Regions from separate parts of the Homo sapiens genome. Here region 2 is linked to region 1. The links come from fine-mapping of genetic effects on plasma protein levels. A gene starts in region 1. The other region holds a variant in brackets. All regions are shown on one strand. Distances are from middle to middle.

What was found. PIP is the chance, under the fine-mapping model, that this variant and not a neighbour inherited with it causes the effect. The UK Biobank Pharma Proteomics Project read protein levels with antibody pairs (Olink). The fine-mapping took linkage between variants from a reference panel, not from the people measured, so its PIPs are less certain.
Region 2: its variant is fine-mapped to the plasma level of the ATRN protein (UK Biobank, PIP above 0.99).

Annotation. Positions count from the first base shown.
Region 1 is chr20:3,457,645-3,473,499 of GRCh38, reverse strand. ATRN (attractin) reads right to left here and starts at 2,482. Exons shown (of 29, transcript NM_139321.3): 1 at 1,983-2,482. The coding sequence starts at 2,392. It also overlaps the pseudogene TCEAL9P1. RefSeq lists a silencer at 2,096-2,655 and an enhancer at 2,756-2,895.
Region 2 is chr20:3,520,691-3,536,545 of GRCh38, reverse strand. ATRN (attractin) reads right to left here. Exons shown (of 29, transcript NM_139321.3): 2 at 1,210-1,293. Among named protein-coding and RNA genes, the nearest start is that of ATRN, 58 kb to the right of the region's middle. The variant T/G (reference allele first, on the strand shown) is at 7,594.

The DNA of each region.
Region 1 (15,855 bases):
CCACAGATCTCCACTTGGCCTGGCTTCCCGCCTTTCTCTCCAGTCTTGCCAAGCTCCCCTTTGCTCTCTCTGCTCCTGCCACCTGGCCTTCCATCCGCTTCAACCCCAAGCCTCTGTACCTGCTGGCCCCTCAGCACCCCACCCCTCACGCAGGTAGTACCATCTCACCCCTCAGACTTCACATCGCTTCCTCAGTGACTTACCTTACCCCTAGACTAAGTCAAGTCCTCTGTTTGTCTCCTGCTCTTTACCTCCACAGCCTTAAACAAAATTACAATAAAATTTTTGTTGGATTTTTTTACTCCCAAGCTGAAATGTGAGCTCCGTAAGAGCAGGACTGTGCCTGTCTTGTATACCACTGTATCTCACAACCTAAAACATAGGAGCCCTCAACAAATACATGTAGGTTAATGGAATTCATAAATCAGAACACCCTAAGTTACAAAAGCAGCTTCACTGCATCAGTGGTCCTGAAGTAACTTGGTTTCTCCATCCATAAAACTAAAGAGCTCATCTGCTCAACGTTCTCTGAGTTCCTCAGAAGACCTAATATTACCTAAGTCTACAATTTTGCTATTCCAAACTCCTCTCTCACAACTCTCTTCCACATAGGCAGCAGCAAAACTTTACTTTCCAGCCTCCACAACTTTGTTTGCACCCTTCTTTCCATCTGTAATTTTTTTCCAGCTCCACATTTCCAAATCCTACTTAACCTTACATGCTCAAATCCAATGTTACCGCCTCCTCAAAGTCCTCCTTGCATCCCTCCAGCTAGCCACAACCTCTCCATCCCTGAATTCCCACAAGTTCCCTGTTGCCTCATTCAGGTCTCAGATCAAATGTCATTTCAAATGAGAACCCTCTCCAAGAGTCACCACCGGTTATAATTCTCTATCAGACCACGCTGTTTTTATTTTCTTGATAGCATTTACCATTACCTGAAATTACCATGTTTATTTCTCTCATTTATTTACTTGTTAAGTGCCTGTTGCTCCCACTAGAATGTTAAGGTCAATGAGAGCAGAGGCCCTGTCTGTCTTGTTCACATTTCCCCACTCCCCCACATCAGACATGTGTTCAGTAAGCTAAATACCTGTCAAAGGCGTGAATGACTCTGTAACCCTTATGACTAGGGTTATGTGCGCACATTATCTTTCTCTTGCTATATTCCAAACTCCCTGTGGACAAGGCCAAAGTCTGGCTAATCTGTCTGTATTATCTGGAAAATCATTGCACAACTGAAGCAAATAACGATAACTGCTAATTAATTTATTGATTTCTCCAAGAGGAACTGCCCCAAACTAAGCCAATTCAGAACTTCATATTGTCCAGAAACCAAGGCAAATAGGAATCTCCTTCCATTCCCTCTTCACCACAGACCCTATTCCAATTTGCCACCTCCAGGGAGCTTTTGCCAAAAGGCTAGTTTCCTCACTTTCCTTTAGAAGGACCACTGGTCCTTCTATCCCTAATATCTTACAATGCTACCCTTTCCCTTTTATCTCCAGCCAACAAAGCATTTCCAGGGCCCTGTTTCTTCAGAGCACCCCACATCTCCAGTGCATCGGGGAACTCATCGGGTCCTAGGGCACATGTGGATGTTAAAAGGAAGTGTTCAAGCAAACCTGGCTCGACCACCTTTCCTTGGATACCTCGTTTAGCTGAAACACGCCGAGTTTTAGAGCGATCGGCTTTGATGCTCTTTGGGTCCCTCAGCATTCTTCCCATCTAACTAACCTAAGCACCCAAATACCGTCGGGGTGCCCCCACCCTTGCCCCACACCTTTTCACCTTCCAACAGAGAAAGACCCCAGGCCAGAGACGATGATCTCCCCGGAAGCAAATGGCCCTCAAACCCCATAGGGCGGCCCTACCCTCTCCACTTTCTGTCCAGCATCTCCCTCTGACCTGGAGCCGTCTCGAACGCCCCTCAGCCCCAGCCTCTGGTTGGACCCGACCCTCCGACACCACCCGCCACTCACCTGAAGCGGCCCCCGCAGTGCTGGCATTGCTCGCCCACCCAGCCGGCGGGGCAGACGCACTGGCCGGTGCCAGGGTTGCAGCGACCGCCGTTGACACAGGGCCGGTCACATTCCTTGGCCTCGGCTGCGGCTGAGCCCGACACCGCCGCCGCCGCCGCCGCGGCCTCGGCCTCACAGGGCAGCAGCAGCAGCAGCAGCGGCGGCGAGAGCAACAACAGCAGCAGCAGCAGCCGTGGCCGCAGCGGTGGAGACAGCAGCCGCGGGAGGCGCAGCCCGGCCCCCAGCCCCGGCCTCCCAGCCCTGGTCACGTCCCAGTCCCAGTGCGGCCCGCCGCTCCTGCCCGCGAGCGCTGCCGTCGCCGCCGTCCTCCTCCTCAGCCTTGCCTCAGTTGCCGCCGCTGCAGCCACCATCTTCCCGGGGCTGAGACGGCGCCCCGCGAACACATACACACACACCGCACGGCCGGCTCCGCTTCGCCTGGCCGTGCGGGGCGGGGCTGTGCGGACGGTGGCTCGTGCGGTCCAAAGGGGCCACAGCGGGGCGGTGGGCGGGGCCGGCGCGCGCGTGCGCGAGTACGTGGGTGCGTGCGTGCGGGGGCGCAGACAGTGGTCTCCGGCGTCCGCGGCGCCGGAGGCGATCTTCTGACGTGGACCGTAGAACGAGCTGAAACCCGGCTGCGCTGTCCCGGCCGGCGAAAGCTCTAGTTTTCCCCCTTCGCCTTTCGTCCCCGGCGGCGGGGTTGCAGCCCCACTGGATGCCTAGGAGCCGACTGCGTTGAGTGTTGCCCTCCTAGAGACCCGGCACTCTGCCCTAACTCCAGCTGCCGGACGGAAAGGGTACAGGAGGCTGCATCGCAGCGAGGTGCTGGGTGCGGTACTGTAGAAGCCAGGCTTCATTCGAGCCTCTGTAACACAAGAGTCAAGAAAGAACACATGTAGAACCTGGCATAGGCCGGGCGCGGAGGCTTACGCCTGTAATCCCAGCACTTTGGGAAACTGAGGCAGGCGGATCACTTGATCTCTGGGATCCGAGACCAGCCTGGCCAACAGGGTGAGACACTGTCTCTACTAAAAATACAAAAATTAGCCGAGCATGGTGGTGCGCGCCTGTATCCCCAGCTACTCCAGAGGCTGAGGCAGGAGGATCGCTTGAGTCTGGAGAGGTCAAGGCTGCAGTGAGCCGCAGTCGCAGCACTGCACTCCAGCCTGGGCAACACAAGACCCTGTGTCAAAAAATGAAGAACCTGGCATGTAGGCTGTGCTCAGTAAATGCCTAATAAACTGAATGAAGACACACAGCCAGGCCTCTTGATAACAGATGGACTGTAGCTGACCAGACCCCCTACCTTTAATTCTGTAAAAGTTTGGAGTTACCTTGCTCCCCACAATTTGCCCTCCAACCATCTTCTCTGAAGAGTGGGCAATATAGAATTAGGAAATGGCGCTCACACAGACCTGCCCCTTCTTGTCTGGTAGTTGTTACTCTGGTGTCCCTCAATGAGACATGTCTTCCATCAATGTAGCCTTTTATGGTCCTTGACCCTGGAATCTGGGCTGGGTCATGATTGAGACCATGAGAAACCATGACTCAATTTCACCAATAGAAGAAGTTGGTAGGAGTAGCAATGTCTTGTTTCTAGCTCTGAGCTTAAAAAAGACCTGGCAGCCTTGGCCGGGCACGGTGGCTCACGTCTGTAATCCCAGCACCTTGGGAGGCCGAGGCGGGCAGATCACGAGGTCAGAAGTTCGAGACCACCCTGATCGACGTGGTGAAACCCTGTCTCTACAAAAAATACAAAAATTAGCCGGGCGTGGTGGCACACACCTGTAATCCCAGCTACTCAGGAGAGTCGCTTGAATCCAGGAGGCAGAGGTTGCAGAGAGTCGTGATCGCGCCACTGCACTCCAGCCTGGGGGACAGAGCGAGACTCTGTCTCAAAAAAAAAAAAAGACCTGGCAGCCTTGATTTTGAGCTGTTGGTGGTCATGAGCTGCACCCCGTTAGCCACCTTGCTGGAGAGAAACCATGTGCAGAGACCACTTGGACTTGGAGAGGGAGAGCTGGGCCGCTCAGCTGGTGGAGCCATCCTAGCTAAGGGATCAGTCATTGAGTGAAGAAGCTATCTGGGTTGGGTTATTCCAACCGTCTGGGCTGTTCCATGTTACCTACAACAGTAACAGGTCTTTCCTAACTGTGACTTATCCAAAATCCTAAGAAATAACTCATTTATCATTTAACCCTTAAGTGATGAATTATTTATAATTTTTCATAAATTATGATTTATGTTATTTTAAGCCTCTAAGTTTTAGAGAGGTTTGTTACTCAGTAATAGATAAGCAGAACATTGTCCGACATAATGCTTGTGCTATGAGGAATATTCCTATGGCACCTACCTCAGAATCTGGGCACCTTACAGTCCCTGGGAAACAAAGAAAAACCCTCATAGACCTGTGGAGCCTCTCAGCTTTACCTCAGAGTATGGAATTTTAAGGTTCTAAGATGGATTTCCACACTCATACCCAGGTCCCACTCTCATACTCAGGTCCTGACTGTCCTCACTGCATCTTCTTCAAGCCTGGTGAAGCTGAATTGCACAAAAGCCTTACCCCCAGCTCTACATCCACACATACTCCCCATTCCTACAGGAAAACTATTGTTCGGCCTAGGCCCTAGCACTGACATTCTGGTTTGCAGGTTATGTTTTTGCCATGTAGGATTTTGAAATTGAAGACATGGCCCTACCCTCTGGCAGGACCCCATCAGATGGGGAGGCTGGCATAGGCCATGCCCTAGCTGTAGGAGACATTGCTCCCCCTAATCTTCCAGGCCAGAAGTGAACCAGCCCTTTCCTTCCCTTCCCTCCCCACAGCAAGACTGAACCCACACTGTGAAGTTTCACATGATTTTACCAACATTCAGGGATAACAGAAAAGGTGTGCATCTGAAGAACAGCAATCCCTAGACTAGATATTGCTACTCTGAAGCCTTAGAATCTTGCTGCAGCAAACATTCTTTCTTACTTCCTTAATCTACTCTCTTCTCTGGTTCTTTTTCCTTAGCTTTCAAACATGCTCAAATTATTTTGTCCTTAAAAAACAAACACGCTGGGTGCAGTGGCTCATGCCTGTAATCCCAGTGCTTTGGGAGGCCAAGGTGGGAGGATCACCTGAGGCCAGGAGTTTGAGACCAGCCTGGACAACATAGTGAGACCTTGTCTCTACAAAAAATTTTTTAAAAAATTAGTCAGATGTGGTGGCGTGCATGTGTAGTCCCAGCTACTTGGGAGGCTGGGGCAGGGGGATCACAGAGCCCAGGAGTTTGAGGCTGCAGTAAGCTATGTTTGGACCACTGCACTCCAGCCTGGGCAACAGATCAAGACCCTGTCTCTAAAAACAAATAAACAAAGAAACAAAATCTTACCTGCTATCTTCTTTTTCCTTTACTGCGTTTATCAAAAAGTCCCCTACACATTCTATGTCTGTGTGATAGATTAAAGATGGCTGCAAATTCTCTTACATTCCTTCTATGGAGAGATCAGGTCTAACCCTTGGCCCCGGCCCCACCCCCACCCCCACCCCCACCCCACTCTGAATCTAGCCTGGCCTTAGTGATTTGCTTGACTGATAGACTATGGTGGAAGTGATGTACTGGGATTTCTGAGGTCCCAGAAATGGGACTTTATGCTAGGTCATAAGAAGTCTTGCAGCTTCCTCCTGAAGTGTCTTGGAACACTTGCCATAAAAGATGTCCAGCTACCCTGAGACCACCATGCTGTGAGGAAGCCAGCCCCCAGCCATTCAAGTCTTCCCAGTTGGGGCCCCAATCATGAAGCAGGGGGGTGTTGTTCCTGCTGAACCCGCCCCAAACTGCAGATACATAAGCAAATAAATGAGCCAACTGGGGACAGTTCGTTACACAATAATAAATTACCAGAATACTCTGTACCCTGGTTCCTCCAAGGACAAGAATAAGTCTTGTGATGTGGACTTGATTAAGAATTAAGAACGACAGTATAATTGTATATAAATGTATAATCTACAACTAGTCATCTATATGTAATACACTAGTATCATTGTCCAGTTGCTTCTCATGAAGGAGGTCACCGTAGTCACCGTAGCTTCAGAAGTGCCTCTGTTGTACCCCAGTGCCTTATCAGCAAGATTCTGCAGCAGTTCTGCCTGAAATCCCTTTTTTTCCACTGGTCTTTGTCATGGTGGTCATTTCCAGGTCCCAGAAACTGTAATGCCAGTGGCAAAGAATACCCAGGCTTTGATACAAATTACTCTAAGTCCAGACACTAAAATAACATTGTTCTTGCCAACTGCATGACCAAAAGGGTTTGTCTCCACTAGGTTAGTGCAGGATGGTTTGAAGGTGCCTATGCCTATTCTTTTTCACTTAAGTAAGGCATCTTACTCACCTTGGCCCTTTCTCTGATTTCATGTCATCTCTTCCTGTTTCTTTGCTTGCATTGTCTCCAAGTCATGGACATAGATGGATTTTATAATTTTTGGCTTTTACTCATGCAGTGTCTTTGGTCAGATTCCCTAGAAGCAGAACCCTGAAACAGGATCTGAGTGCATAATTCATTGGAAGATTGCTCTCGGAAGAAACACAGTGAAGGAAGCAAGATAGAGCCCAGGAGGGGGTTGAGAAAAGATGTGGTCTGGTCTTATCTAGAGTTGAGCTTCAGCCTGATCCTATGGAGAGCCCTAGAGCATGAATTGTACCATAGAATTGATTCCACTTTGAGGTAAGGGAGCAGCATTTTGTACACACATCTCTTTCAGCAGACAACATTCACAGCAGTAAGAAGGATCCTATAAAGGAAATTTGGGAGGGGTACCAATAGATACAAATAGATAGCTCCATGTATGTGTAATACATATAACAAATGTTTGTTTATCAAATACCTACTAGAAAGCAAAGATTGAATACTGCTCAAGTAAGATCTGATTGACCATCTGACTTTCCCGCAAACATCACCGGTCCTCATTCTGCACTGTTTGAAACATCGATACATTTTATTGTCCCAAAGTTATCCTTATACTTTTAGTCAATGTGTGACCAAGCAATTCTCTAATTATAGGTGTTAAAATCTCACCTAGAAGGTAAGGTACTACGTTGCCTGTGAAAGAGGTTGATCCTGAAGGTTTGGAACAAACACAACTGAGAGGGTTCTAGGTAGGAATAAAGTGCCATTGAAAGCTCCAATGGATATCCCACTGTCAACCAACCAGCAATAAGATTCCAATAGTCCTTGGCAGACTGTAAGAGAAAGTGTTTAGGAGTCCCTGATCTGGGAGCATAAAGTTATACCTCTGAGCTGTTGGCAGAGCTCCTGGTGGCCTCCTCAGACAAGTCCCACAAGTACAGGAGTTCACCTTTATGTCAGCTCAAGGGACAAGACGCTGCACTGGGATGAGCACATCAATTTAAAGGCAGAAGACTTGAAATTTCTATTGGATGAGCTAGATTCATGCCCCCTCCCCCAAATTTCTACAACAGAGAACAAAAATTTTCTCTTGTGTATAGATAAGATACTATGAAAACAGTACTACTGTTAAAAGACAAATGACTTTGCTAAATATGGCCATGAAGTACTTCAAATTAGAAGTTCCCAAACTGAAGCCATCCTTTTGGATTAAAATCCCTTATAATTTCTCCTAATTACAGATGACATATTAGTTTCCTGTGACTGCTATAATAAATTTCCACAAACTTGGTGGCATAAAACCACAGAAATTTAAAAGTTGACAGTGCAGAAGTCCTACTAGTCTGGTTCTTGTTCCCACCTGGGTACCAGCTTCCTTCAGCAGTGTTGGCCAAGGTGCTGGGGGCCAACGAAGGGAAGAGTCAACTTGTGAGAATTTTGCAGGTCTGTTGTTCTTAGCACAATGCAAGGCTAGACAAAGAGGAGAAAGAAACTTACCTGATCAGTGCCAGAAGTTATTGCACTCAAAGGGGAATAAGCAGGAAAAAAGAAAGGAAAGAGGGAAGAAAGGAAAACAAAAGGAAGGAAGGAAAAAGAAAGAAAGAATAGAAGGAAGAAAGAGAAGCCCCACAGACATGAGATGAAACCCTGTCCAAAAATGGAAGGAAGGCCAGAAAATAGTGAACCAAATTTTGAGGAAAAGCCAGAGGAGGAGGAAAATGCAGAAGGAACTTTTAGAGAAAGCTAATTCCATCTCTCCAGAATATAAAGATGTACATAAGAGGCATTTAAGCAATGAAGATATGTTTAGAGAAGTGGATGAAATAGACGAGATAAGGAGAGTAAGAAACAAACTTATAGGGATGTACTGGAAAATTGATCAAAACCATCCTTGCCCCTATTTAATGCAATTTACTTTTATTTTTATTTTATGTGATATTAACAATGCTATATAACTTTCTTTTTATTAGCATTTTTCTGATATACCTTTGTCCATCTTTCTACTTTTAACCTGTTGCTGTTAGTGGCTTCAGATGCATCATTTACCCATATCTCATTGTTTACCATATTTGAACCAATCTTCAAATCTCTTTTATAGAAGAGATTTACTCATTTGTAAAAAAAAAAAAAAAAAAAAAAAAGAGGTTCCTGATAGGATATAAAATGAAAAAAGGGTTACTAAGTAATATGTTAATATCATTTTAATTTTTTAGTTTTTAGGGACAGGGTCTTGCTACGTTGCCCGGGCTGAAGTGCTGTGTCTATTCACAGATGTGATAATCGCATACTACAGCCTCAAACTCCTGGGCTGAAGCGATCCTCCTGCCTCAGCCTTCCCAGTAGCTGGGACTACAGGCACATACCACCATGCCCAATTGTGAATAACATTTTTGAAAGGTAAGAGTACATTTGGATATCACATATATGCACATAAAAACTCGTGAAGGGTGAAAGACAAAAGGTACAATCTCTCCACAGAGGATTATAAAAGATTTTTTTTATCTGCTTACTTGTGTATTCCATATTCCTAAAATGAACACACATGATTATTGCTAAAAACAATAAAAGTTTTAAAACAACAACAAAAACCAACCTACAGAAATGTATTCTCTCACAGTTCTGGAGACCAGAAGTCTGAAATCAGGGTATCAGCAGGCTAGGCTTCTGGAGACTCTAGGGAAGAACCCTTCCCTGCCTGTTCCAGCTCCTGGTGGCTGTCCACATTCCTTGGCTTCCTTGGCTCGTGGTCACAAATCCCATATCTGCCTCCACCTTCACGTCACCTCCCCTCTATGTCCGTCTTCTGTGTGTATCTCCTATAAGGACATTTATTGGATTTAGGGCCCACCTGGATGATCCAGGATGAACTCACCTCAAGCTCCTTAATTAATTACATTCGCAAAGCCTTTTTTTTTTTTTTTTTTTTTTTGAGACAGAGTCTCACTCTGTTGCCCAGGCTGGAATGCAAATGGCATGATCTTGGCTCACTGTAACCTCTGCCTCCTGGGTTCAAGCGATTTTCATGCCTCAGCCTCCCAAGTAGCTGGGACTACAGGTAACCGTCACCACGCCCAGCTAATTTTTGTATTTTTTTTAGTAGAGACGGGGTTTCACATGTTGGCCAGGCTAGTCTCGAACTCCTGACCTCAGGTGATCCTACCGCCTTGGCCTGCAAAGTGCTAGGATTACAGGCATGAGCCAACGTGCCTGGCAACATTTGCAAAGACCTTTTTTTCCAAATACAGTAACATCCAGAGGTTCCAAGGATTAGAACATGGACAAATCTTTTGGGGGAGCCACCATTCAGCCCACTTCACACACTACACAGGTAGTCAATTCACTCAATGTATTCATTTAAGCAACTTATATTTTTTGAGTGGCTGCTGTATACCAGACACTGATCTATGCTCTGGGAGGCAGAAATGAAAAAGGATATCAAAATTCCTCTCTTTCCTCATGCCATTAGAATAGCTTGTATTTAAAATAAAAGAAGAAGAAAAGGAAAAAAAAACAGGCCGGGCATGGTGGCTCACCCCTGTAATCCCAGCACTTTGAGAGGCTGAGGTGGGTGGATCACCTGAGGTCAGGAGTCCGAGACCAGCCTGGCCAACGTGGCAAAACTTCATCTCTAGTAAAAATACAAAAATTAGCTGGGTGTGGTGGCGCATGCCTGTAATCCCAGCTACTCAGCAGACTGAGGCAGGAGACTCGTTTGAACCCGGGAGGCGGAGGTTGCAGTGAGCTGAGATCGCGCCATTACACTCCAACCTAGGCGACAAGAGAGAGAAACTCTGTCTCAAAAAAAAAAAAAAACAAACACACACAAAAAACAGACAATACTGGCATGGTGGTGTGGTGGTGTGTGCCTGTAGTCCAGCTATTCGTAAGGCGAACACAGGAGGATTGCTTGAGCCCAGGAGTTTGAGGCCAGCCTGAGCAACAACATGGCAAGACCCCCATCTCTAAAAACAAAGAAGTCAGACAAACAGACAATAACAAGTGTTGGTGAGGATGTAGAGAAATTGGAACCCTTGTGCACTGTTAGTGGTAATATAAAATGGTGCAGCCACTATGAAAAACAGTATGGGGGCTCCTCAACAAGTTAAAAATAGAATTACCATTTGATCCAGCTGTTCACTTCTGGGTATATTTCCCAAATAATTGAAAGCAGGATTTTGAAGAGATAGGTGTATTTCCATGTTTATTGTAACATTATTCACAAGAGCCAGGAGGTGGAAGCAACTCAGGTGTCTGTAGATAGATGAATGGGTAAACAAAACGTGGTATAAACATACAATGGGGCCGGGTACACTGGTTCATGCCTGTAATCCCAGCACTTTGGGAGGCCGAAGCAGGCAGATCACCTGAGGTCAGGAGTTTGAGACCAGCCTGGCAAACATGGCGAAAACTCATCTCTACTAAAATACAAAAATTAGCTGGCCATGGTGGCGGGTGCCTGTAACCTCAGCTACTTGGGAGGCTGAGGCAGGAGAATTGCTTGAACCCAGGAAGCAGAGGTTGCAGTGAGCCAAGATTGCTCCACTGCAATCCAGCCTGGGCGACAGAGCAGGGCTCTGTCTCAAAAAAAAAAAAAAGTACTATGGGCCGAGCGTGGTGACTCACAGCTGTAACCCTAATGCTTTGGTAGGCCAAGGCAGGAGGATGGCTTGAGGCCAGGAGTTTGTGACCAACCTAGGCGACAATAGCAAGACTCCTGTCTTTACAAAAGAAAAATTGTTTTAAATTAGCCAGGCACGATGGTGCATACCTGTAGTCCCAGCTACTTAGGACGCTAAAGAGGAGGATTTCTGGAGCCCAGGAGATCGAGGCTGCAGTGAGCCATGATCGTACCACTGCACTCTAGCCTGAGCAACAGAGCAAGAAGCTGTCTCAAAAGTAAAAATAAAAATTAGCAGAGTATGGTGGCATGCACCAGTAGTCCAAGCTACTTGACAGGCTGAGCCACGAGGATCACTTGAGACCAGGAGTTTGAGGCTGCAGTGATCACACCACTGCACCCTAGCCTGAGCGACAGAGGGAAACCTTGTCTAAAAAAAATAAAATAGAAACTTATATACACACATCATGATATGACAATTTATTGATTAATTCTCTTGCTGGACATTTGGGCAGTTTCCAGTTTGAGATTACTATGAATCATGATGCTATGATCATCTGGAAATCAAATACAGGTATTTTGGTGAGTATACATACATTTCTATTGGGTAGATACCAGAGGTTTGCTCATAAATGTTTAGCAACCAGCTCACTGAGAAGAAAAAGCCTTCATGCATAGCACTAGTTGATTTCTATGTTGTAAATACTCCCACCATGACCTATTTCGAGCTCCCATCATGATGTCACTGAGTGTGGAATCGGAAAGAGAGACATAGGCTCAGCCCTCACAAGCCAGTGGGAACCAGCTCCAGCACCATGTACGCCTGGGAGGTCTACTGAGAAACAGATGCCAAAACCAAATTAGACATACAAGGGCTTTACTGGGGGAAATGTCTGTGAAGGATAAAGCGGAAGCAAACAGGAAATGGCAAGAGAGGATTCAGACAGGAATAAAAATCTGACAGCTGTGAAGGAAAGCGGGAAGAAAAGATTGGTTAAGAAGAGTGTCAGATGTCAGTGCAGTTTCAATGAAGGCTCTCCCAGGCCAGTGGGGAGTCCTGGAGCCAGAGTTGTCTGTCAGAGCAGCAGCATCTTGCAGGAATCAGCCTGCAGTAGCACAAACGCAGTGGGGGACCCGGAGGGGGAGCAGCTGGGGCTGCCAGTCAACTCCGCTCCCCACGGCAGGAGAGCTGAACGATGAATTTTCACGGTTGCCACAACTGGCAACATTCCTTTGCGCCATCTCCATGTAGATGTGAGGTGGCTCTCAGACAGTGTCCCCTCCAGGTGACCTGTTTTTCACAAGTTAGATACACAACCTGGGCTTGGCTGACTTGTTTGGAAGCTGGACTGGCTGTTTTAGACTTAATAAGCCCCAGATTTCTTGGGTTTATTCAGTAGAAAAGAGAGGGTCTCAAGAGGAAGACATTGGTTTTTTTCCTAATAAGAACAGATAAGTATTCTAATTGTTAACTAAAGAAATTGGCCGGGTGCAGTAGTTCACGCCTGTAATCCCAGCACTTTGGGAGGACGAGGCAGGCGGATCACCTGAGGTCAGGAATTTGAGACAAGCAATGCCCAACATGGCAAAACCCCAACTCTACTGAAGATACAAAAAATTAGCCAGGCATGGCAGCGTGCGCCTATAATCCCAGCTCCTTGGGAGGCTGAGGCACAAGAATTGCTTGAACCCGGCAGGGCGCGGTGGCTTACGCCTGTAATCCCAGCACTTTGGGAGGGCGAGGCGGGCTGATCACAAGGTCAGGAGATCGAGACCATCCTGGCTAACATGGTGAAACCCCATCTCTACCAAAAATACAAAAAATGAGCCGGGCGTGGTGGCGGGAACCTGTAGTCCCAGCTACTCAGGAGGCTGAGGCAGGAGAATGGCGTGAACCCGGGAGGCGGAGTTTGCAGTGAGCCGAGATTGTGCCACTGCACTCCAGCCTGGCAACAGAGCAAGACTCCGTCTCAAAAAAAAAAAAAAAAAGAATTGCTTGAACCCAGGAGGTGGAGGTTGCAGTGAGCCGAGATCATATCACTGCACTCCAGCCTGGGCAACAAGAGTGAAACTCCATCTCAAAAAAATAAAACAAAAAAAAGAACAAAGCACATTGTCCTGGCACCACCAAAAGCACCATCTCTGTTTCTCATGCTTACTCAAGGCCCTGATACAGACCACTGCCAAGGTTGTGATCAAGGCCTCTGATGCCTGCACAGAGGTCCCTATCTCATGTTGCTGCCAAAGCCACTGGCACCAACTCCCATTATCTGAGAAGCCACTGGCAGTGAAGCAGCCTTTTTTATGGTGAAGTGGTTCTTGCGTTCACTTGCACTGTGACTGTGGCAGGAACCCCAAGATGGGGGAAGGGTGGCACATAACCCTGTGTGCAGAACTAGCTGACCAAAAGCCTGTGACTAGAGGTATAGCCCAGATTACAGTGTTTACCAAGTTAAACAGACTGCAGCCAGATTGGCATATCAAAAATGGCTCAAGGAACAGGGAGAGTTTAGCTATGAACCCAAGCAAGGCAGGGCCAAGGGCACTGATTGTGGACAAGGTTCAAAGAGGACAGAAAGCAGACCTGCAAGATGTCCACAAGCTGGAGTCCTAGGCTTGAGGCAGCTTTGAAGTCTGTGGCTGTGGCCATAGTCTGGGTCCCCAGACAACAGTCCCTGTCTCCCATATGCATTTTAAGGGAGGCTGTCATTTTTTGTTTTTTGGTGTTTTTTTCATGTGGAAAGTTCCGCAAGATCTCTGGAGATTCAGGAGCCTGATGGCAAGAAGTCAAGCCCAGCCTCCCCTATAGTCACAAAGAGTGTATGAGCCGAGAGCCTCCTGCCACACACACACACACACACACACACACACACACACGCACACACACACACACACCAGCATTCTTTCCAGACAGCATCCTCTCTGCTTTCCACACAGGTAGATGCCAGATCTACCTTTCCCAACAGGGCTGCCAAAGCTGGACTTTGTTCCAACTGAATGATGTCATTCTCACAAACCAATTCTCTATATTGTTTGAAATCTGCACCTAGATATTGATTTCATGTTGTGGGTCAGGCGCGGTGGCTCACACCTGTAATCCCAGCACTTTGAGAGGCCGAGGTGGGCAGATCACTTGAGGCCAGGAGCTCAAGACCAGCCTGGCCAACATGATGAAATCCCATCTCTACTAAAAATACAAAAATTAGCTGGGTATGGTGGTGGGAGCCTGTAATCCCAGCTACTCGTGAGGCTGAGGCATGAGAAACGCTTGAACCTGGGAGGTAGTGGTTGCAGGGGGCCAAGATCGCACCACTGCACTCCAGCCAGGGGGACAGAGTGAGACTCTGTCTCTAAATAAATAAATAAATAAATAAATAAATAAATAAATAAATAAATAAATGATTTTATGTTTTAAAGAAACTCTCCCGAATTACAATTATGCCCGATGTAGGGTGGCTCTTGGGGGGTAAGTAAACAGTACAGGGCGTTAGAAACATGCTCAACTCCTCCAGAACAAAATTGCTCCTGAGTTCCATGGCCTTGGAACATATTTCTGTCACTCTGGTTGGTTGGGCTGGTCCTTAGCCTGGGTGCTTATAAGCAAAAGGGCTTGCTTATAAGCCCTCTAGTCATTCACAGTTCAGTGTGAGAGACTGACATCTAAACAGGCAATTAGGATTCGGAGTGCTCACTGCACGGGGGCTTGTAGAGAGATGAGCTTGCTGTCAGTGCACCCAGGAGGGCCACACACTTACGGTGTCTGTGGGTCAGACACGGCTTCATAGCACTGGGGCATTCGAGTGTGTCTTAGAGGAAGAGGAGAAACATGGCAAGCAGATTATGTCTGAATAATGTGAGTTGTGTTTTTCTTTCTTCCCATATTTACTATCTAAGACCTGCCTGAACTTAGCGGCTCAAGAGACATGTACGTATGTATGTATGGACGGATATGGATATACCTATGTATCTATATATATATATATATTTTTGAGACAGGGTCTCGCTGTGTCACCCAGGATAGAGTGCAGTGGCACAATCACAAGCCCTCATGCAATGGAGCCTCAACCTCCCGGACTCAACTGATTCACCCGCCTCAGCCTCCCAAGTAGCTGGAACGACAGGCATGCAGCACAAAGTCTGGCTATTCGTTGTTGTTGTTGCTGTTGTTGTTGTTATTTGTAGAGATGCAGTCTCCCTATATTGCCCAGGCTGCAGTGATCCTCCTACTTCAGCCTCCCAAAGTGCTGGGATTACAGGCATGTGCGACTGCACCCAGCCTCAAGACATTTTTGACAAAGCCCCCTACCCGTTCCTGAGGTAGTGAGTGCAACCTCACAACAGACAACAGGCAAGCCAGATCCCTAAAACCTGATTTCTCTAGGCTCGGCCTGGCCTGACCCTGTCCTACCAGCTGGGTTTGCATGCCATACTCCAACCCTTCCTTTTTAATACCCACTCCCAAACCTCCTCCTAACTATCACCTTTCTTTTCCCTTTGAAACCTGTCTTCCCCTCCCAAATTACTTTTAAGCATTTTTGGCTTTAAAGTATCCTGACCCCAATGTCTTTGACCTCATGGGACTTCTGAAAAAGGTGTCTCAGGGAGTGGGGCTGTGCTTCCCTAGGACTTATGTCACTCTCAGAGGTCAGAACCTTGGAGATCATAACTGATTCTCAACAGGTGTGAGGGGTGTGATATCAGATTGCTATGCCAATCCGATAGTGGAGTATGGCACACTACGTACTCCCTGCAAAGGAACAACATCAGAGTCTGTGGGCAGACACTGGCTCCCTATGGTTTGCAAACATACTCCCCCGATGG
Region 2 (15,855 bases), 63 kb before region 1:
GGTGAACACAAATAGAAAAACATAAACTTATTTGGGGCCGGGTGCAGTGGCTCACTCCTGTAATCCCAGCACTTTGTGTGGCCAAGGCAGGCGGATCACTTGAGGTCAGGAGTTCGAGACCAGCCTGGCCAACATGGTGAAACCCTGTCTCTACTACAAGATACAAAAACTTAGCTGGGCATGGTGGCACATGCCTGTAATCCCAGCTACTTGGAAGGCTGAGGCAGGAGAATCGCTTGAACCCAGGAGGCAGACGTTGCAGTGAGCCAAGATCACACCACTGCACTCCAGCCTGGGCCACAGAGCGAGATGACATCTCAAAATAAATAAATAAATAAATAATAAATAAACTTATTTGGAATCCTCAAAGTTTAAAAGTGTAAAGAGGTCCTGAGACCAAAAAAGTCTGAGAAGTACTGCTTTAAAAGTCTCCCATGAAGACAAGGAGAAAAAAGGCCAACAGCCAGAGGGACACAGTGGGTCCAGAGAAGGGATCATTTAGGCAATAACAGTTATTACAATTTTCTTATCCACAACAAAAATAGATACTTAGAAAAATAACACAATATTGCAATTTTCTAATGCTTTAAGCAAACCATTAAAAATATGGAACCGTGGCTGGGCGCAGTGGCTCACACCTGTAATCCCAGCACTTTGGAAGGCTGAGGCGAGCGGATCACTTGAGGTCAGGAGTTCGAGACCATCCTGGTTAACATGGTGAAACCCCTTCTCTACTAAAAATACAAAATTAGCCTGGCGTGGTGGCATGCACCTGTAATCCTAGCTGCTCAGGAGCTGAGTCAGGAGAATCGCTTGAACCTGGGAGGCGGAGGTTGCAGTGAGCGGAGATCACGCCACTGCACTCCAGCCTGGGTGACAAGAGCAAAACTCTGTCCCATAAAAATAAATAAATATATATGTGTGTGTGTGTGTGTGTGTGTGTGTGTGTGTGTGTGTAACCGTTTCTGAACTATTACAGTTGGAAATACACAAATTTGTGGTGTGTACAATTCATTTGCAGCATTAAATCAACATGAAACTTTTAAATTAATGAAGGCTAAGATAAAATTCACTTGTCAAATGAAAGGTTATCAAGTAATGTTTTAAGAACTTTATGCTACAGATTGTTAATTTTACTTGTGGGAAAACTAATGTCACACTGACTTCTATGCTAAAAAAACAAAAATTAAGTCAGCCATTTCTACTTACTGTCCTTCAATGAGCCACGTGCACTTCGTTTTGTATTTATAATTTCCAGGTCCATCTGTCACAAACCCAGAAGATCCAGTTAGTCTGTAATTTAAATCAAGAAAGAAAACTTAAGTCTGCTATATTAATTTCATATATTTTTATATATTTTATATATTTTCATATATTAATATTTCTTAATTCTTAATATAATACAAATTAAACATAATGGGTACATTAACAAACACTATAACCAGTAGAAAATGACTAGTTATATTCAGATTGCATAAATTTAGATGAAACAAATACTTATTGCATACATTAAAAAAGAAGACAGAAAAATATTAAAACCAACAGGAATGAACAAAACATACCTAAATCTTATCTTAATTTTATGTCATCCTTTTTCCTTTTGGTAAAGACAGGTCTCGCTATGTTGCCCACGCTGGTCTCAAATTCCTGGCCTCAAAAGATCCTCCCATCTCGGCTTCCCAAAGCACCAGAATTACAGGCTTGAGCCCTCACACCCAGCGATAAATTTCTTAAATTTATTTTTTGTAGAAACAGAGTCTCACGATGTTGCCCACGCTTGAACTTCTGGCCTCAAGCAATCCTCCTATCTTGGCCTCCCAAAATGCTGGGTTTACAGGCATGAGCACTGCCACCAGCAAGTATCTGTTACTATATAAAAATGTTTAATATTTAAGAAGGACGCTATTTCCTTCATCATGGCTGTTTCCAGATATTTTTCTTCCCTCTTTCATTAACATCAGCCACTCTGAACACATGCTCGCTTCTGGATCTGCCTCCCTTACCTTCTGAGTCATCTCCCAGCTACTCCTAATGCACTAAAGATATTAACAAATCGTTCACTCTCTTCCACTCATCTGCATCAACATCTAAGATGTTCCATCCAAAATCCAGTCTCTCCATTTCTTAACCTCACCATTAACTATCTTTTCCTCCACCCCTCTTTAGCCATCCCCTTCTCTGGCCCTTGCTATTACCAGTAACAACATTACCACAAAAAAAGCACCCTGACCTCTGACTACTATCTCATCTCTCCAGTTTATTCCCCCTTTCCAATGAGACTTTGGCCCCATGGAGACCACCAATCCATTGAACTATCATTTCTTCACTGTTCACCACCTACCATCCACACATTTCATTTTCTCACATACCTAGTTAAGACTCCATAATCCATCACGAGAATCATATCCTGCAAACTCCCTGATGTTCTTGCCTTTCTCTTCCTCTGCTGTACTTGCCTGATAGAGATGTATCCATGCCCTACTCCCCAAAATCCATTCCACCCCAAAATGTTAGTCGAAGCCAATCATGTTTTCCCATGCCCCTTGCCACTGACTGATTAGAAATCTGTATCAATTAAAATTAGGTGTGGACCAGGCATGGTGGCTCTTGCCTGAAATCACAGCAGTTTGGAGGCTGAGGCAGGAGGACTGCTTGAGGCCATGAGTTCAAGATCAGGCTGGCCAACACAGCAACACCCTCATATCTATTTTTAAAAAAGAATATGTATCTATATAGATATAGATATACATCATATATAGATATAGATGTAGAAAAAAGATTAGGCTTTAATGCAACTGTCAGAAAAACCTAAATAGTAATGGACTAACCACCAAGATAAAAAAAACCCAAAGATAAGCAATCCAGAGCATGCAATGCATTTCCATGATCATCAGGGACCTAATGCTGTTCTATACTATTGCTCTGTCATCCCCAACATGTGGCTTCTACCTCATAATCCAAGATAGCGGCTCAAGCTCCAGCTATTATACCCAAATTCTACCCAGCAGGAAGGAGGAAAAGAAAACGGGGGGGTACACCCTCTCTCCCTCTGTTAAGTCACACATGAAAATTCAACTTACATTCGATTAGCCAGAAGTTACTGACATGTCTACAAGTAGAGGAAGGCTGAAAAATGCAGCCGTTATCCCAGATGATCATGTACCCATCAAAAAATCAGAATTCTTTTTACTAGAGAAGTAGAAAAAGGCTATGATGTGTAACCATGAATCTCTGACACAGAATGTAATCTAATACTTAGATGTGAGGGCACATCTGATGGATGATTTCCAGGAAATATTTTCTTATTCTTAGGAAAGTGTGTGGACAGGGAGACATGCCACCTAGATCTCCTCTTCAAGGAAGGACTTGCTGCCAGCAGCAGCAGGGAATGTGGTCAGCAGAACATCAATTCCTTCAGGGGCTGCCTTGCTACAGGTCATGCCCTTCCCATGGCAGCCCACACCATGAAGAGGCCCATACCATAGGCTGGGCGTGGTGGCTCACGCCTGTAATCCCAGCACTTTGGGAGGCCAAGGCGGGTGGATCACGAGGTCAGGAGATCGAGACCATCCTGGCTAACACAGTGAAACCCCGTCTCTACTAAAATTACAAAAAATTAGCTGGGCGTGGTGGTGGGCGCCTGTAGTCCCAGCTACTCGGGAGGTTGAGGCAGGAGAATAGCGTGAACCCAGGAGGCAGAGCTTGCAGTGAGCCAAGATCGCGCCACTGCACTCCAGCCTGGGCGACAGAGTGAGACTCTGTCTCAAAAAAAAAAAGAGTATAAAGGCCCAAGCATTTCAATCCAACATGGGACAACTCAAATAAGCAATCCTGCCCCCACAGTTCCCCTTTGTCAGGCCTGCATTGGAGCTCAACTTCTTCCTTTGCCTAATTATGCTTTTCCTTCCAATAACACCTTCCTCTACAATACTATAATCAAGTTGTAACCCAAACTCAGCCTTAGCAAATGCTTTTTAAAAAACAACCTATGATAAACATCCAAGAAGAGACCATTCTTCTCTATCTGGACTTTGCTATAGCTGGATTTTACAGCTGGAAGTACTACAGCCTGAACACAACGCCTGTGCTATGCCTGAACACAAAGCCAACACCAAGAATGACAAATCAAAGGAATGCAAAGTCCCTGAAAAACAGTATCAACCACCCACAAAAACCACCTTACTCTAGGCTTCTAGTTTCTTAGGTAAATTTCCCACTGGTTATTGTTTTATTCCGTGTGTGTGTACACACTTCCTTGATTCTTTGTCTTGGGGCCTAATATAAAAGGTTTTATGGCTCTCCACTATGCTGCTTCTGCTCCTAAGAGTTTCAGTGGACTTCACGTGAACACTTAGGTTTGCAAATCAGCATCAGTTTTATAAAACAAATATTTGTGTTTTTTGTTTTTTGTTTTTGAGACAGAATCTCACACTGACACCCAGGCTGGAGTGCAGTGGCAAGCTCAATGGCTCACTCCAGCCTCAAACTCCTGGGCTTAGGTGATCCTCCTACCAAAGCCTCTGGAGTAGCTGAGACTACAGGCACACACCACTATGCCTAGCTAATTTATTTTAATTAATTTTGTTTTTTAGAGATGAGTCTTGCTATGTTGTCCAGGCTGGGAAACAGGTCAGTTTTATTTTAAATGTTTACTTAGTATCTTTAAACATACATATTTATATAATTTTACAGATAATGCATAGATATGATCACAGACGAATCTTGTTGTTGTTGTTGTTGTTGTTGTTTTAACCCACTTCCCCAGTTACTCTGACCCACCCTTGACCAAGGTAAACATTTAACCACCTACCAGGAATTCTTAAATACTTTTCTTCATACTCATGAGCCTATGATATAGGCATGGTTCTCTTAAATTATTTTTTGGTTACACAAATTATTATATACTTTTCTGCATCTTTCTTTGCTCACTCAACAAAACCTTACGGAAATTTCTCAAACTAATCTGGTATTAGTCTAATTTATTTTTTCTTTATGTAGCATAGTATCCCACCTATGGAGGTATCACTTTTTCCTGCCTTTCCCTACTAATGTTCATTTTGTTTTCAGTTGACTGACAATATGCACATCACTGCAATAAATATCCCTATACATATGGCCTTACTTGGGCTTTTATGTCTAAGAGTAGAAATCTTAGGAGGAGGTATACTAGGCCAAAAGGAATATGAATTTTAATTGTTAACCAAGCTGTCAAATTATTTTCCAAAAGGCTGTAACAATTCACATTTGCACCAGCAATGTATGAGAATATGCTATTCCCCACATCCTCTCAGCACTAGGTGTTCCTGTTTCTTTTAAATTATGTGAGTTTTTAATTCAAAATTCCCTGTGTTCTAATAAATGGCCAACAAGTGGTTACTAAAAGTTTAAAGGAATTTGAAAGAGAAAGGCCAGGAATATCAACCTAAAATTTCAGGTCAAGTTTTACAGTATCATTGATAATCTAGGTGTGGGCATGGGCAACACCTGTACACTAGGAAAACCTAGTTCACTGGCAGTCACACAAAGGCATCAAACTGAAAGGCATTTCAATAATGTAAGGCTAAAATATGAAGAATAAAGACCTTGCCACCACCAATTTCTTAGTTCAAGAATACTGAGGTAATTCTGCAGTGGAAACAAATATAGGGAGAATAGGGGAACAGGAGGCAGGTTTCAAAGGACTCGTCTCATAGTTATTTCTTTCTACTTTACCAGTATTATTACCAGACAACGCAGCCTATAAAATCTCAACTTTTCTCATCTGTTAAGATTTTCTTTATGGTCAAGTACCTTGGACATTAAACTTTGACCACAGTTCCTTGGACATTAAAAAAAGATCTATTCCAGGAATTTAAAACACTATTTCTATACACATATGATTAAGATTATTAAATGCACTATTCAATTCCTTATACTCGTATTTTCATCTACTAGACCTAATTCTGATAAACATGTACTGAAATCCTGGCCAGGCGTAGTGGCTCACACCTGTAATCCCCAGCACTTTGGGAGGCTGAGGTGGGTGGATCACGAGGTCGGGAGTTTGAGACCAGCCTAGCCAACGTGGCAAAAACCCATCTCTACTAAAAATACAAAAAAAAAAAAGAAAAAAAAATTAGCCAGGCATGGTGGCAAGTGCCTATAATCCCAGCTACTCGGGAGGCTGAGGGAGGAGAATCGCTTGAACCTGTGGGGCAGAGGCTGCAGTGAGCTGAGATCGCACCACTTCACTCCAGCCTGGGAGAAAGAGCAAAACTCTGTCTCCAAAAGAAAAAAACATATATATATAATATATAATTTTTTAATATATATATTATATATATATATAAATCTCATACCATGCCTGCTCTACCACACTACTCAGATTATTTTTGCTTTATGTGTTAAGCTTTTTAGCCATACAAGATTATGGCTATTGGATTTTCATAAAATATGCCTTTTATGATGTTAACAATCCACTTACCTAGTTTGATATTTAAATTTCACCTTGTCTAATATTATTATAATTATTGATCTTTTGGTTATTTTCCTGTATCTTACATCTTTATTCAACTCTTTTATTTTCAGCTTTACTTATCAAGTTTTCAATAGTTTGCTTCTTCGAAACAGGACTTGGTTAGGTTTTGTTTCTTAAACTAACCTGACAGTATTTTACTGCCACAATATATAATCTGTTTGCATTTAGTTTAGTGACTGCTATACCAATTTGATTCCTTCCAACCAAATCTTTAATCAATCTTAGTGAAAAGTAATTTACATATAATAAAATGCAGCCACTGATGTGTACAATTTGATAAGCTTTGACAAATGTATACACAAAGTGTAATCTCCTCAAACAGGATATAAAACAGTTTCCTCACCCCCAAAAGCTCTCTTATATCCCTCTCCAGGTAATCTCTCCCAACCTCCACCTCAAACATTGATCTTATCTTTCCCACTATAGATCAGTTTTACAGAATTTGACTTAATGGAATCAAAGACACTTTTGTGTCTTGCTTCTTTTTATCAACATAACTTTTCTAAGTATTGTATCAATAGTTTGCTCCTTCACACTGCTGAGTAGTATTCTCTTGTATGAAAATACACAACTTGTTTATTGGTGGACACTTGGATTACGTAATTATAGGCTTTTATAAATGAAGTTAAGACACGTATAAATCTTTCTGTGGACAGGTATCTACATTTCTCTTGAATAAATATACAAAATGAAATCACTGGATTAAAGTATAGATATGCACTTAAATTTTTAAGAAACTGCCAAACTGTTTCCACCTTACAATCACATTTTCAAGATATGAGAGTTCTACTTATTCCACATCAGTTCCCACATTTGGTATAATCAGACTTTTTATTGCTTATTCCAGTAGGTATGCACTATTCTATCTCATTATGGTATAAATTTGTATTTTTCTGATATTTAAAGATTTTCAGAGGCTGGGCACAGTGGCTTATGTCTATAATCTCAGCACTTTGGGAGGCCAAGGCAGGTGGATCATTTAAGCCCAGGAGTTCAAGACCAGCCTAAGCAACATAGTGAAACCTAGTCTCTACAAAAACACAAAAAACTTAGCCAAGTGTGGTGGTATGCGCCTG[T/G]AGTCCCAGCTACTTGGGAGGTTAAGGTAGAAGGATTGCTTGAGCCCAGGAAGCAGAGGTTGCCATGAGCCAAGATGGTGCCACTGTACTGCAGCTTGGATGACAGAGGGAGAAACTGTCTCAAAAAAATAAGATAAAAAAGATTCTGAGTACCCTTTCTGGTGTTTACTGATCATCTGCACATATTATTTTGTAATGTGCTTGTTATTATTTTTGCCCTTTTTTCTAACTTTTATTTTAGGTTCAAGGGGTCCATGTGCAGGTTTCACAGGGGTTTGATGTACAGATAATTCCATCACCCAAGTAATCAGCGTAATACCTGAAAGGCAGTTTTTCAATCCTTACTCTCCTCCCACTCTCCACCCTCAAGCAGGTCCCGGTGTCTGTTGCTCCCTTGTGTCCATGTGTACTCAATGATTAGTTCCTACTTGTAAGTGAGAGTATGTGGTATTTGGTTTTCTGTTACTGCATTAATTCACTTAGAATAATGGCCTCCCTGCATCCATGCTGCTCAAAGGACACAACTGCATTCATTTTTACAGGTGGTAGTATTCCACGGAGTATATGTACCACATTTTTTTTTTTTGAGACGGAGTTTCGCCCTGTTGCCCAGGCTGGAGTGCAATGGCGCAATCTCGGTCAACTGCAACCTCCGCCTCCTGGGTTCCAGCAATTCTCTGCCTCAGCCTCCTGAGTAGCTGGGATTACAGGCGCCCACCACCATGCCCGGCTAATTTTTCTATTTTTAGTAGAGACGGGGTTTCACCATCTTGGCCAGGCTGGTTTGAACTCCTGATCTCGTGATCTACCCACCTCAGCATCCCAAAATGCTGGGATTACAGGTGTGAGCCACCACGCCCGGCCTTCTGGTTTTTTTGTTTGTTTTTATACTTTAAGTTCTGGGATACATGTGCAGAACATGTAGGTTTGTTACACAGGTACACACGTGCCATGGTGGTTTGCCGCACCCATCAAGCCGTCATCTACATTAGGTATTTCTCCTAATGCTGTCCCTCCCCTAGCCCCCCACCCTCCCAACAGGCCCCAGTATGCGATGTTCCCCTCCCTGTGTTCATGTGTTCTAACTGTTCAACTCCCACTTATGAGTGAAAACATGCAATGTTTGGTTTTGTTCCTGTGATAGTTTGCTGAGAATGGTGGTTTCCAGCCTCATCATGTCCCTGCAAAGGACATGAACTCATTTGTTTCTATGGCTGCACAGTATTCCATGGTGTATATGTGCCACATTTTCTTTATCCAGTCTATCATCGATGGGCATTTGGGTTGGTTCCAAGTCTTTGCTATTGTGAGTAGTGCTGCAATAAACATATGTGTGCATGTGTCTTTACAGCAGAATGATTTATAATCCTTTGGGTATACACCCAGTAATGGGATTGCTGGGTCAAATGGTATTTCTGGTTCTAGAACCTTGAGTCACCCCACTGTCTTCCACAATGATTGAACTTATTTACACTCCTACCAACAGTGTAAAAGCGTTCCTATTTCTCCACATCCTCTCCAGCATCTGTTGTTTCCTGCCTTTTTAATGATCACCGTTCTAACTGGTGGGAGATGGTATCTCATTGTGGTTTTGACTTGCATTTCTCTAATGACCAGTGATGATTAACTTTTTTTCATGTTTTTTGGCTGCATAAATGTCTTCTTTTGAGAAGTGTCTGTTCATATCCTTTGCCCACTTTTTGATGGGGTTGTTTGCTTTTTTTCTTGTAAATTTGGTCTTTGTAGATTCTGGGTATTAGTCCTTTGTCAGATGGATAGATTGCAAAAATTTTCTCCCATTCTGTAGGTTGCCTGTTCACTCTGATGATAGTTTCTTTTGCTGTGCAGAAGCTCTTTAGTTTAATTAGATCCCATTTGTCAATTTTGGCTTTTGTTGCCTTTGCCTTTGGTGTTTTAGTCATGAAGTCTTTGCCCATACCTATCTCCTGAATGGTATTGCCTAGGTTTTCTTCTAGGGTTTTTATGGTTTTAGGTCTTACGTTTAAGTCTTTAATCCATCTTCAATTAATTTTTGTATAAGGTATAAGGAAGGGGTCCAGTTTCAGTTTTCTGCATATGGCTAGCCAGTTTTCCCGACACCATTTATTAAATAGGGAATCCTTTCCCCATTGTTTGTTTTTGTCAGGTTTCTCAAAGATCAGATGGTTGCAGATGTGTGGCGTTATTTCTGAGGCCTCTGTTCTGTTCCATTGGTCTATATATCTGTTTTGGTATCATGCTGTTTTGGTTACTGTAGCCTTGTAGTATAGTTTGAAGTCAGGTAGCAAGATGCCTCCAGCTTTGTTCTTTTTGCTTGGGGCTGTCTTGGTTATATGGGCTCTTTTTTGGCTCCATATGAAATTTAAAGTAGTTTTTTCTAATTCTGTGAAGAAAGTCAATGGTAGCTTGATGGGGATAGTATTGAATCTATAAATTACTTTCAGCAATATGGCCATTTTCACTATATTGACTCTTCCTATCCATGAGCATGGAATGTTTTCCATTTGTGTCCTCTCTTATTTCCTTGAGCAGTGGTTTGTAGTTCTTGAAGAGGTCCTTCACATCCCTTGTAAGTTGGATTCCTAGGTATTTTATTCTCTTTGTAGCAATTGTGAATGGGAGTTCACTCGTTATTTGGCTCTCATGAGTTTGTCTATTATTATGTATAGGAGTGCTTGTAATTTTTGCACAGTCTATTATTGATGTATAGGAATGCTTGTGATTTTTGCACACTGATTTTGTATCCTGAGACTTTGCTGAAGTTGCTTATCAGCTTAAGGAGATTTGGGGCTGAGACGATGGGGCTTTCTAAATATACAATCATGTCATCTGCAAACAGAGATAATTTGACTTTCTCTCTTCCTACTTGAATACCCTTTATTTCTTTCTCTTGTCTGATTGCCCTGGCCAAAACTTCCATATTAGGTTGAATAGGAGTGGTGAGAGAGGGCATCCTTGTCTTGTGCCAGTTTTCAAAGGGAATGGTTCCAGCTTTTTCCCATTCAGTATGATATTGGCTGTGGGTCTGTCATACATAGCTCTTATTATCTTGAGATAAGTTCCACCAATACCTAGTTTATTTAGAGTTTTTAGCATGAAGAGCTGTTGAATTTTATTGAAGGCCTTTTCTGCATCTATTGAGATAATCATGTGTTTTTGTCATTGGTTCTGTTTATGTGATGGATTACGTTTATTGATTTCCGTTATGTTGAACCCATCTTGCATCCCAGGGATGAAGCCAACTCGATTGTGGTGGATAAGCTTTTAGATGTGCTGCTGGATTCGGTGTGCCAGTATTTTATTGAGGATTCTCGCATCGATGCTTATCAAGGATATTGGCCTGAAATTTTCTTTTTTTGTTGTGTCTCTGCCAGGTTTTGGTGTCAGGATGATGCTGGCCTCATCAAATGAGTTAGGGGGAAGTCCCTCTTTTTCTGTCGTTTGGAATTGTTTCAGAAGGAATGGTACCAGCTCCTCTTTGTACCTCTGGTAGAATTCGGCTGTGAATCTGTCTGGGCCTGGGCTTTTTTTTGGTTGATAGGCTATCAATTACTGCCTCAATTTCAGAACTCGTTATTAGTCTGTTCAGGGATTCAACTTTTCCCTCGTTTAGTCTTGGGAGGGTGTATGTGTTCAGGAATGTATCCATTTCTTCTAGATTTTCTAGTTTATTTGCGTAGAGTTGTTTATAGTATTCTCTGATGGCAGTTTCTATTTCTTTGGGATCAGTGGTGATATCCCCTTTATCATTTTTTATTGTGTCTATTTGATTCTTCTCTCTTTTCTTCTTTGTTAGTCAAGCTAGCAGTCTATTTTCTTAATCTTTTCAAAAAACAGCTCCTGGATTCACTGATTTTTTGAAGGGTTTTTCATGTCTCTATCTCCTTTAGTTCTGCTCTGATCTTAATTATTTCTTGTCTGCTAGCTTTTGAATTTGTTTGCTCTTGCTTCTCTAGTTCTTTTAACTGTGATGTTAGGGTGTCGATTTTAGATCTTTCCTGCTTTCTCCTGTGGGCATTTAGTGCTATAAATTTCCCTCTAAACACTGCTTTGGCTGCGTCCCAGAGATTCTGGTATGTCGTGTCTTTGTTCTCACTGGTTTCAAAGAACTTATTTATTTCTGCCTTAATTTCGTTATTTACCCAGTAGTCATTCAGGAGAAGGTTGTTCAGTTTCCATGTAGTTGTGCAGTTCTGAGTTTCTTAATCCTGAGTTCTAATTTGATTGCACTGTGGTCTGAGGGACGTTATGATTTCTATTCTTTTGCATTTGCTGAGGAGTGTTTTACTTCCAATTATGTGGTCAATTTTAGGACAAGTGCCATGTGGTGCTGAGAAGAATGTATATTCTGTTGCTTGGGGGTGGAGAGTTCGGTAGATGTCTATTAGGTCCTGTTGGTCCAGAGCTGAGTTCAAGTCCTGAATATCCTTGTTAATTTTCTGTCTCATTGATCTGTCTGATATTGACAGTGGGGTGTTAAAGTCTCCCACTATTATTGCGTGGGAGTGTAAGTGTCTTTGTAGGTCTCTAAAGACTTGCTTTACGAATCTGGGTGCTCCTGTATTGGGTGCATATATATTTAGCATAGCTAGCTCTTCTTGTTGCATTGATCTCTTTAACATTATGTAATGTCCTTCTTTGTCTTTTTTGATCTTTGTTGGTTTGAAGTCTGTTTTATCAGATACTAGGATTGCAACCCCTGCTTTTTTTTTTTTTTTGGCTTCCATTTGCTTGGTAAATACTCCTCCATCCCTTTGTTTTGAGCCTATGTGTGTCTTTGCACATGAGTTGGGTCTCCTAAATACAGCACACCGATGGGTCTTGACTCTTTATCCAATTTGTCAGTCTGTGTCTTTTAATTGGGGCATTTACACTTAAGGCTAATATTGTTATGTGTGAATCTGATCTTGTCATTATGATGCTAGCTGGTTATTTTGCCCATTAGTTGATGCAGTTTCTTCATAGTGTCAATGGTCTTTACAATTTGGTATGTTTTTACAGTGGCTGGTACTGGTTTTCCTTTCCATATTTAGAGCTTCCTTCAGGAGCTCTTGTAAGGCAGGCCTGGTGATGACAAAATATCTCAGCAATTGCTTGTCTGTAAATAATTTTATTTCTCCTTCACTTATGAAGCTTAGTTTGGCTGGATATGAAATTCTGGGTTGAAAATTCTTTTCTTTAAGAATGTTGAATATTGGCCCCCACTCTCTTCTGGCTTGTAGGGTTTCTGCTGAGAGATCTGCTGTTAGTCTGATAGGCTACCCTTTGAGGGTAACTCAGTCTTTCTCTCTGGCTGCCCTTAACACTTTTTCCTTCATTTCAACCTTGGTGAATCTGACGATTATATGTCTTGGGGTTGCTCTTCTCAAGGAGTATCTTTGTGGTGTTCTCTGTATTTCCTGAATTTGAATGTTGGCCTGTCTTGCTAGGTTGGGGAAGTTCTCCTGGAAAATATCCTGAAGAGTGTTTTCCAACTTGGTTCCATTCTCCCCATCACTTTCAGGTACACCAATCAAACGCAGGTTTGGTCTTTTCACATAGTCCCATATTTCTTGGAGGCTTTGTTTGTTCCTTTTTCATTCTTTTTTCTCTAATCTTGTCTTCATGCTTTATTTCATTAAGTTGATCTTCAATCTCTGATATGCTTTCTTCTGCTTGATCGATTTGGCTATTGATACTTGTGTATGCTTCACAAAGTTCTTGTGCTTTGTTTTTCAGCTCCATCAGCTCTTTCACATTCTTCTCTAAACTGGTTATTCTAGTTAGCAATTGCCCTAACCTTTTTTCAAGGTTCTTAGCTTCCTTGCATTGGGTTAGAACATGCTTCTTTAGCTTGGAGGAGTTTGTTATTACCCACCTTCTGAAGCCTACTTCTGTTAATTCATCAAACTCATTCTCCATCCAGTTTTGTTCCCTTGCTGGCGAGGAGTTGTGATCCTCTGGAGAAGAAGAGGCGTTCTTGTTTTTGGAATTTTCAGCCTTTTTGCGCTGGTTTTTCTTTATCTTCGTGGATTTATCTACCTTTGGTCTTTGATGTTGGTGACCTTTGGATGGGGTTTCTGTATGGACGTCCTTTTTGTTGATGGTGATCCTATTCCTTTCTGTTTGTTAGTTTTTGTTCTAACAGGCCCCTCTGCTGCAGGTCTGCTGGAGTTTGCTGGAGGTCCACTCCAGACCCTATTTGCCTGGGTATCACCACTGGAGGCTGCAGATCAGCAAAGATTACCACCTGTTCCTTCCTCTGGAAGCTTCATCCCAGAGGGGTATCCACCAGATGTCAGCTGGAGCTCTCCTGTATGAGCTGTCTGTCGACCCCTGATGGGAGGTGTCTCCTAGTCAGGAGGCACGGGGGTCAGGGACCCACTTGAGGAGGCAGTCTGTCCCTTAGCAGAGCTCGAGTGGTGTGCTGGGAGATCTGCTGCTCTCTTCAGAGCCGGCAGGCAGGAATGTTTAAGTCAGCTGAAGCTGTGCCCACAGATGCCCATTCCCCCAGGTGCTCTGTCCCAGGAAGATGGGAGTTTTATCTATAAGCCCCTGACTGGGGATGCTGCCTTTCTTTCAGAGATGCCCTGCCCAGAGAGAAGGAATCTAGAGAGGTAGTCTGGCTATGGAAATTTAGAACATTTACATCTTTTCTCTTTTCTAATAAAAACTTTTGCAGGTACAAATTCCTCTCTATATACTGCTTTAGCTGCATTCCACAAATGTAACAGACTGTGTTTACACTTTCATTCATTCCAAAATGTTTTTCTAATTTCCCTTATTTCTCCTTTGACCTATGTGTAATTTAGATGTTGCTTAATTTCCAAATGTTTGGGGGAATTTTTCTAGTTATCTTTTTGTTAATGATTTCTATTGCAATTCCACAGAAACTCTGGCTCACGTCTATAACCCTAGCATTTTGGGAGGCCAAAGTGGATGAATCACTTGAGGCCAGGAATTTAAGACCAGCCTAGGCAACATAGTGAGACCTCATCTCTACTAAAAATTAAAAAAAAAAAAAATTAGCTGAATGTGGTAGAGTGTACCTGTAGTCCCAGCTACTCAGGAGGCTGAGGTGAGAGAATCATTTGAGCCCAGAGATAGAGGCTGCAGTGAGCTACAATCCCAACACTTCAGCCTGGGTGACAGAGCAAGCGAGACCCTGTCTTCAAAACAGAACACATGACATATGGTTTCAAATCTTTTAAATGTATTGAGACTTGTTCTATTATCCAGCATATAGTCTATTTTACTGAATGTTCCAAGGGCACTTCAATGTGTAATCTGCAGTTGATATGTATCATGTTCTCTAAGTACCAATTATGTCAAGTTAATTGACAGTGTTATTCAAGTCTTCTATAACCTTCTTATTTTTCTGTATACTTGTTTTATTGATATTGAAAGGCAAATGTTGAAATCTGCAACTATAATTGTGGATTTGCACATTTCCCATTTTAGTTCTGACCATTTGTACTTCATGTATTTTAGAACTCTGTTGCTAAACACCTACAAATGCAGGACTGTTCTGTCTTCTTGAAGAATTTACATGTTTGTCTTTATGAAATATTTCTATCTCTGTTAATATTCCTTGTTTGTGTGAAATCTACTTTGTTTTTGGGTTTTTTTTTTCTCTTGACTTTTATTTTAGATTCAGGGGTATGTGTGCAGGTTTGTTGCATGCGTAAATTGCGTGTTGCCGAGGTTTGATGTACAAAGAATCCTTTGTATGCAAAGTACCTAATACTTTGCATACACCTTCATTCATTCCAAAATGTTTTTTTCTGATTTCCCTTATTTCTCCTTTGACCTGTGTGTACGCATAGTACCTAATAGGTAGTTTTTCAACCCAACCCCGCCTCCCAACCTCCCCTCTCAAGTAGTACCCCCTGTCTATTGTTCCCATCTTTGTGTCCACATGTATTCATTGTTTAGCTCCCACTTACAAGAACATGCGGTGTTTCATTTTCTGTTCCTGTGTTAATTCACATGAAGTCGACTTCGATCTTAATATAGCCACTCCAGTTTTCTTTTCATGAGACTACATAATTTATTCACATTTAGTAGATGACCTAAATATTAATTTTGTTCTTTCCATCTATATTTTGTTTGTTGCTTATTTACATTGCTCTCTTTTCTTTTTCCTTATTTTACTAGTGTGATAAAGTTGGCGTGCAGGCCAGGTACGCTGGCTCATGCCTGTAATCGCAGCACTTTGGGAGGCTGAGGCAGGCAGATCACTTGAGGCCAGGAGTTCGAGACCAGCCTGGCCAAAATGGCGAA